2 linked regions of the Homo sapiens genome follow. The protein of the gene in region 1 interacts with the protein of each later gene in a biochemical or structural test. Each region holds a gene or a part of one and is shown in the gene's direction. Other genes may lie near its edges. The genes, in order: ARAF and IRAK2.

Evidence for each region.
Region 2: the proteins of ARAF (region 1) and IRAK2 form a complex in vitro, tested with the Homo sapiens proteins (one study listed by BioGRID).

The regions. Positions count from the first base shown.
Region 1 is NC_000023.11:47,567,608-47,571,422, forward strand, and holds part of ARAF (serine/threonine-protein kinase A-Raf), read left to right. Parts: intron 1-1,110; coding exon 1,111-1,287; intron 1,288-1,379; coding exon 1,380-1,426; intron 1,427-1,931; coding exon 1,932-2,050; intron 2,051-2,285; coding exon 2,286-2,417; intron 2,418-3,270; coding exon 3,271-3,405; intron 3,406-3,715; coding exon 3,716-3,815. UniProt on the Homo sapiens protein: Involved in the transduction of mitogenic signals from the cell membrane to the nucleus. May also regulate the TOR signaling cascade. Phosphorylates PFKFB2.
Region 2 is NC_000003.12:10,216,768-10,220,582, forward strand, and holds part of IRAK2 (interleukin-1 receptor-associated kinase-like 2), read left to right. Parts: intron 1-166; coding exon 167-281; intron 282-444; exon of another isoform or gene 445-552; intron 553-2,912; coding exon 2,913-3,022; intron 3,023-3,815. UniProt on the Homo sapiens protein: Binds to the IL-1 type I receptor following IL-1 engagement, triggering intracellular signaling cascades leading to transcriptional up-regulation and mRNA stabilization.

The DNA.
Region 1 (3,815 bases):
TTAGAGGACCTGTGATCATGCAGTTGTTTGTGTTTGGGTTATTAATGAATGGTTCTGCCTCCAAAATGTGGGTCTTCTCATTTGCCTGCTGCGAACTGGGTCTGTGTGTGGGCCACCATTCTTGTTACTGCATTGCCAGGAAGGCTTCCATCTTTCCTTCCCCTCTGCTTGGGCTACAATGGTAATGTTCTGTTTATAGTGTTGGTTCTTGTTATTCATTAATTCTAATACCTTGATTTAAACAATATTATCATCATCACCATAATCTAATCATTGCTTAATTATTATAATTGCTGTAATATGTAATCAATACAGTATTCATCTAGTCACGCTAAGAAAGCCAGGTGTCTCCTTTTTGCTGCTATAGTTACTATGTAGCATAGTACTGTATACCTATATACTACAGGTAGTACTGGATAGCGTCTACCAACCCTGGGGATGTTGGCATTGGCTTTTCCTCTGTGTCAGATGGGCACAATTATGTTACAGAGAATAAGGTAGCTAATGCAATGATCAGTTTTACAGTTGAGGAACATGAGGCCCAGAGAGGTTAAATGTCTTTCCCAAGGTTGTACCTTGAGTACCTGGTGAGGCCTAGATTTGAACATGAGTCCAGACTCCAAGCTCTTTACCTCTAAGCTTCTCATGCTGCTGAACAGGCTCTAATCATCATATATCACCAATGTTTTAATCCTGCATCTATCCATATTATATTGATACATCAGTGAGGAAGGTTGGCATTCTGCTTTCTCATCTGTGAGATGGTCACAGACCCAGGTAATGGTCAGAGTCAGAGGGGTGGGGGATGTTAATGATTAGAAATGCTGCTGTAGGCAGGGAGGGGGAGGGGCAGCAATTCCTCCCTCCTGCTTTTGTTGGGAGACTCGGATGGGGAAGCTCCACATATGAGCCCACAGCACAGAATCATAGCCCAGTAAACACATCTCACAAATTCATGGAATCTGGCAATGCTTTGGTCCTGAGTGCCCCAAAAGACAGGGTGAAAATAAATGACCGAGGAAGGTAAAGAACAGTGCCACTCCTGATGCTCGGTAAGTGACAGTTGCTATTTTTCCTCCCCACCTCTGACACTGCCCTCCCTGCCTGCAGGAAGACGCGACATGTCAACATCTTGCTGTTTATGGGCTTCATGACCCGGCCGGGATTTGCCATCATCACACAGTGGTGTGAGGGCTCCAGCCTCTACCATCACCTGCATGTGGCCGACACACGCTTCGACATGGTCCAGCTCATCGACGTGGCCCGGCAGACTGCCCAGGGCATGGAGTGAGCCTCCCAGCCTGGGGAGGGGTGGGGGGAAAGGGTGGGGGAAATGAGGTAACCCCCAGCCAATCCGCCACCTGCCTCCACCCCCACAGCTACCTCCATGCCAAGAACATCATCCACCGAGATCTCAAGTCTAACAGTATCTATCTGTCCCTGGGCTGGGGTTGAGTGGGGGTGTCAAGGGCTTAGAAGGATGCCTCTTGTGGGGGTTCTGGGAATTACAAGGGAGGGGCATGTGTCCCAGAGCTCCTTGCCAGGTGGCAGAGCTGTGGCCAGCCAGGGGGCTTTAATGGCAGTCTCTTAGAAGTCAGAGGTGTGGCTGGTTCAGGTACTATTCTTGGGGACTCTGGTTAGAGTCTGATGTCTGACAGTTGTGGAGGGCATTATGGTCAACATCAGAGGCATAGTGGGTTCGGATGCCCTCCGAGGGGCTTCCTGTTCAGGAGTCACAGCGGGGCTGAGTGTGGGGGGCATTAGCAGGCGTTCCCTGCCCACGTCAAGGTTGTGGATAGTTTGCGTGATATTAAGGGGCTCCTGGTCAGGATCAGAGGGATGAGTGGTATAGGGGCACCAATGGGAACCTCCCAGGCAGGGTGAGAGGCATGGCTATTAGGAGTCCCTGTAGTGGTCCTTGACCCTGGCGGACATCTTCCTACATGAGGGGCTCACGGTGAAGATCGGTGACTTTGGCTTGGCCACAGTGAAGACTCGATGGAGCGGGGCCCAGCCCTTGGAGCAGCCCTCAGGATCTGTGCTGTGGATGGTGAGTTGGGCCAGGCTGGATGGGGGGCACATGGGGACGTGGGCTCCGGGATTGGGGTGTGTGGGGCCAAGTGGGGACGGGGATGCCTGTGCCAGATGTGGGTGTCTGGACTCCTCATGTCCCACCTCGTGTGGGTGGCTCTGAGTTGTACCCTGTGTGGCCAGTGGGATCTGGGACTGTGGACCAGCCATTTGCTGACCTCCGTGGTCCCCCTGCCTGGTCTGGCCTGTTGTAGGCAGCTGAGGTGATCCGTATGCAGGACCCGAACCCCTACAGCTTCCAGTCAGACGTCTATGCCTACGGGGTTGTGCTCTACGAGCTTATGACTGGCTCACTGCCTTACAGCCACATTGGCTGCCGTGACCAGGTGAGCCCCACACCTTACCCACAGTTCCCTGGGCTGAGGGATCCCCTCAGGCATCCATACCCCACATCCCCTCCTTTGCACTGATAAATGCCACACTTTCCCCAGAAACCTAAAATTTTCTAGGATAAGGACTCCCAGAATCCCTTGGGCTCCAGACACTTACAATAAATTCTCTGGGTCTCCCCTACCCCAACTTCCCTCTTCTCACATCCACAGCCCTCTGGGACAAAAATCTTTGAAGTCCAAAATGCCCCGAATCTCTATACCTAGAATCCCCTGAGGCCCCCAAATACCCCAAAGCCCTCTGTATCCCTAGACGCCTATAGTCGTCTGCTCTGGGTACTCAAAATCCCCCAGATCCTCAAAGCCCAGATCTCATTTCTCCCAGCATCCCATTTTTCCCCAGAAACAGAACCCCTTTGTGCTTCTGGAATAGTCATGGACACCCACAGTCACCTAGGCCTTGGGTATCTAGCAGGCCCCAGGGCCGGGATACCTAGAACCCTCTAGGCCCCAGACCCCCACAGAAGTACAAGCTCCCCCAGACCCAGAACTCCATGTTTTCCCGAGACTCAGTACTTTCCAGGTCCCTAAGCCTCCTAGAAACCCGTGGGCCTATAATCCTCTGAGCCCCAGATACCTACAATCCTTGACAACCCCAAATTTAAATCCCTCTGTTCTGAAAGCAGAGAATCCTCCCAAGTCCTCAAGGACAGAGAATCCTCTGGGCCTTGATACTGACAGTACCCCAGCTCGCTAAAAATGAACCTTCCAAGTCCCTCAATACAAAATTCCTTGGGCCTCCCAGCCCCTGACCCCAGATCACCCCTTTCCTGCCCCCGTCTGCCCCCAGATTATCTTTATGGTGGGCCGTGGCTATCTGTCCCCGGACCTCAGCAAAATCTCCAGCAACTGCCCCAAGGCCATGCGGCGCCTGCTGTCTGACTGCCTCAAGTTCCAGCGGGAGGAGCGGCCCCTCTTCCCCCAGGTGGGCTGGGTAGGGGGCTGGACACCTTGGGTGGGTGACTCTGGGATAGAGGAAGACTGAGATGGAGGCAGATGTGAATATGAAAGCTCAGAGGTATAGTGTGTGTGTGTGTGTGTGTGTGTGTGTGTGTTTCACCATGAGGCTGGGACTGTTGGGGGTGTGTGTGTATGTGTGTTTCGCCATGAGGCTGGGACTGTTGGGTGTGTGTGTGTGTGTGTGTGTGTGTGTGTGTGTGTTTCGCCATGAGGCTGGGGCTGTTGGGATGCCCACAGGGCTCTGGACACCCCTCCTCACCCCCACCTGCCCTCAGATCCTGGCCACAATTGAGCTGCTGCAACGGTCACTCCCCAAGATTGAGCGGAGTGCCTCGGAACCCTCCTTGCACCGCACCCAGGCCGATGAGTTGCCTG
Region 2 (3,815 bases), on another chromosome or scaffold:
TTCATCTTTCCACCCTGGGGCCAGGCCCTTAGGGGTCAGAGTATGTGGTACCTGGGAGGTTATTGGTGGCGTTGGAGGAGGAGAGGGCAGAAGAGGGGTGGGACATGAGGAAGTAGATCATTCTTTCCGTCTGACTCCTCACACCTGCACTGACGCCCGATTCCAGATGCTGCCACCCCAATGTCTTACCTGTGCTGGGCTTCTGTGCTGCAAGACAGTTTCACAGCTTCATCTACCCCTACATGGCAAATGGTTCCCTACAGGACAGACTGCAGGGTCAGGTAAGGGACTGGGTCATGGTCAGAGAATGGGACCAGGCTGCACCCAGCCATGGGGTCAAGGGTTAAGGACTTACAGAAGTTCAGAGGGGAGAGGGGCCATCTAGGTGAGACCAGGGAGACTTCAAGGAGAGAAGTGGGGCCAGGATACATAAGATCTGGTTAAGTGCTCACTTTGGCAGCACATATACCAAAATTGGAACGATACAGAGAAGATCAGCATGGCCTCTGAATGAGGATGACAAAATATGAAAAAGAAAAAGAAAAGCTCAAAAAGATCTGATTAAACATCTTCAGGAAAAATCTATAAAAAATTATTTGACGAGAAGCATTTCATTCAAATCAAGAGCAGGACAAAGGTATCTCATAGAACTAACTTCGTTCGTCATGGTTCTGGAGGTGTTAGCCAATGCAGTAGGACAAGAAAAAGAATTAAGAGGTAAAGAGTATGGAAAAGTGGAGGTGAATTTTTATTATAAAATGTTCTTCTAATATATACCTATTTGCTTGTGTGTTTATGGAATGTCTCTGGAAAGATACACAAGAAACTGGTTTACTGGCTGCTGCTAGGGAGCAGAACTAGGTGATTGGGGCCTAGGATAAGAAGCAAACTTACTATTAGAGTATTATATCATGTGAAGGTAATCCTTAATAAAAATTACAGTGTTTTAAAACAGGTCTTCTGCTTATCTTATCCTCAAATAGAGGGGAAAGAGTTATTCCATAACAGAATTATTGCTTCCCATGGCAGGGACAAGACAAAGCAGTTACTCACGGCATACTAATGATCTTTAGCTTTTCTGGGCACTCACTGTATGCAGGTTGCTGTGATAAGGGTTTTACGTAGGTCATCACCTCCAGGCCGTGCCACAACCAAAGCAATTTCTTCCCTCATTTTTCAAAAGAGGAATCTCTGACACATAGAGACAAAGTGACTTGCCCAAAGGAACATAGAGGACAAATGTCAGGCCAGAGCTTACATTGGGTTCGTCTGGCTCTAGGTTTCAGAGTTTTTGAGAAGAAATTAGCAGGGGCTGTCCAGGCCAGTTCTTAGAGGATGTGGGACCTACACCAGGGCTTCAAAAATAGGTGATGAGGCTGGGCACAGTGGCTCACGCCTGTAATCCCAGTACATTGGGAAGCCGAGGTGGGTGGATCACTTGAGGTCAGGAGTTTGACACCAGCCTGACCAATATGGTGAAACCCTGTCTCTACTAAAAATATAAGAATTAGCCAGGCGTGGTGGCGTGTGCCTGTAGTACCAGCTACTGAGGAGGCTGAGACAGGAGAATCACTTGAACCCGGGAGGCAGAGGTTGCGGTGAGCCGAGATTGCACCACTGCACTCCAGCCTGGGCGACAAAGTGAGACTCCGTCTCAAAAAAAAAAAAAAAAAAAAAACCAAAACGGTGATGATTTAGCCTGGGAGAGTCAGTCTTAGAACAACAGTGGGAGCAAATGAGAGGCTTTAGCCCATCCCACAATCCCCATCAGCCCTGGTGAAGTTTCCCCTAATACAGATAAAATCAGCGTAAGGCCCAGGTGCTTGGCTTGCAAACACAAGCTCCCTAGCTCCTCTCCCATCCAGCTTCTTTTAGAGAGAAATTCCAGAGCAGCCTCTGTAATGGACATGATAAAAATAACTGCTGATTGAGCACCTACTGTGTGGCAGGTGCTATGCTAGGGGTATACCATATACTCCCTTGAATCCTTACAGCAACCCTAAAATATAGGGATTAACATTTCCATTTTATACCCAAGGAAACTGAGGCTCAGAGATGTTAAGTGTCTTTTTCCAAAATTATACAGCTAATGCATGTCTGAACTGGGAGTTACACCTAGATCTGTCTGATGTCAAAACCCATAGTACAGGGTCAGGCACATGGCTCATGCCTGTAATTCCAGCACTTTGGGAGAGCGAGGTGGACGGATCGCTTGAGCCCAGGAGTTCGAGACCAGCCTGGCCAACATGGCAAAACCCTGTCTCCACGAAAAATACAAAAATTAGTTGAGAGTGGTGGCACGTGCCTGTGATCCCAGCTATTCGGGAGTCTGAGGCGGGAGAGTCACTTCAGCCTGGGATTTTAAGGCTACAGTGAGCTATGATGCTGCACTCCAGTCTGGGTGACAGAGCAAGACCTGTCTCAAAACCAGCAAACACAAAACAATGAAAAAACTCACAGTATCATGCTGAGCCCTGTGACAGAGGACATGAAGGGTGGGAGGAGGATCAGGAGCCTGGGACCCTGCCATCAGGACTTCGTTTTTTTGTTTTTGTTTTTGTTTTTTTTTGAGATGGAGTCTCGCTCTGTCACCCAGGCTGCAGTGCAGTGGTGCAATCTCGGCTTACTGCAAGCTCTGCCTCCTGGGTTCACGCCATTCTCCTGCCTCAGCCTCCCAAATAGCTGGGACTACAGGCAGCCGCCACCAGGACCGGCTAATTTTTTGTATTTTTAGTAGAGATGGGGTTTCACCGTGTTAGCCAGGATGGTCTCGATCTCCTGAACTAGTGATCTGCCTGCCTGGGCCTCCCAGTGTGCTGGGATTACAGGTGTGAGCCACCGCACCTGGCTGCCATCAGGACTTTAAAAAGGTACATTGTGACTATTTGTCCTCCTGCTTTTCTTTCTCTTAGGGTGGCTCGGACCCCCTCCCCTGGCCCCAGCGTGTCAGCATCTGCTCAGGGCTGCTCTGTGCCGTCGAGTACCTGCATGGTCTGGAGATCATCCACAGCAACGTCAAGAGGTGAGAGAGGTGGGCTGGACCCTGCTGGGGCCTGGGCTGCAAGGGTGGAACTGGTGCCTATTCCTGGCTCACCTCCCGCTCCGCCACTCACCCCTGTCCTCTTTGTTTTTCTCTTCCTACCTCCTCTCCTCTGCCCTCCCCTGGATGTCTTTTTCTCTGTTATGCCCTCAAAAATGAGTGTTTCCGGGCTGTGCTCCAAGTCCAATTGCTCTCAGGATGAATTGCCTACCTGTCACATTTGTCTTTCTGAGCTGCTGTTTTCCCAACAAGCCCTCCACACCTTGCTGCGTCGCACTGTCCACTCAGCAGCTGGCCTGGACCTCATCCTCGAACTTTGGGCCATGTCTGCCAACCCCCTGGGATTTTGAGCTCCTCGTTCAGTGTCTTTTCTGAGACCTGTCCCCTTCTTGTGTAGCTGTTGGTGTTAGCATCTTGTCTGGAAGGCTCCTGCAGGTTAGGCCTGCACCCCTGCATGTCAGTGCCATGCACATGAGAGGGAGAGGTCCCCATCTGGAGACGGTTAGGATAGGGAGGGATTCCGAAGATACCAGAATATCTGGCAGAACTGGCTCCAGAGACACAGAACTCGTATTTCCCCAAAGTTCTCTTTCCATTTGACTTGTGGAAGTCCTTTCCTCTTTTCTCTCCCCCAATTTTTTTTTTGTTTTTTGAGACGGAGTTTCACGCTTGTCACCCAGGCTGAAATGCAGTGGTGCGATCTCAGCTCACTGCAACCTCCACCTCCCTGGTTCAAGCGATTCTCCTGCCTTAGCCTCCTGAGTAGCTGGGATTA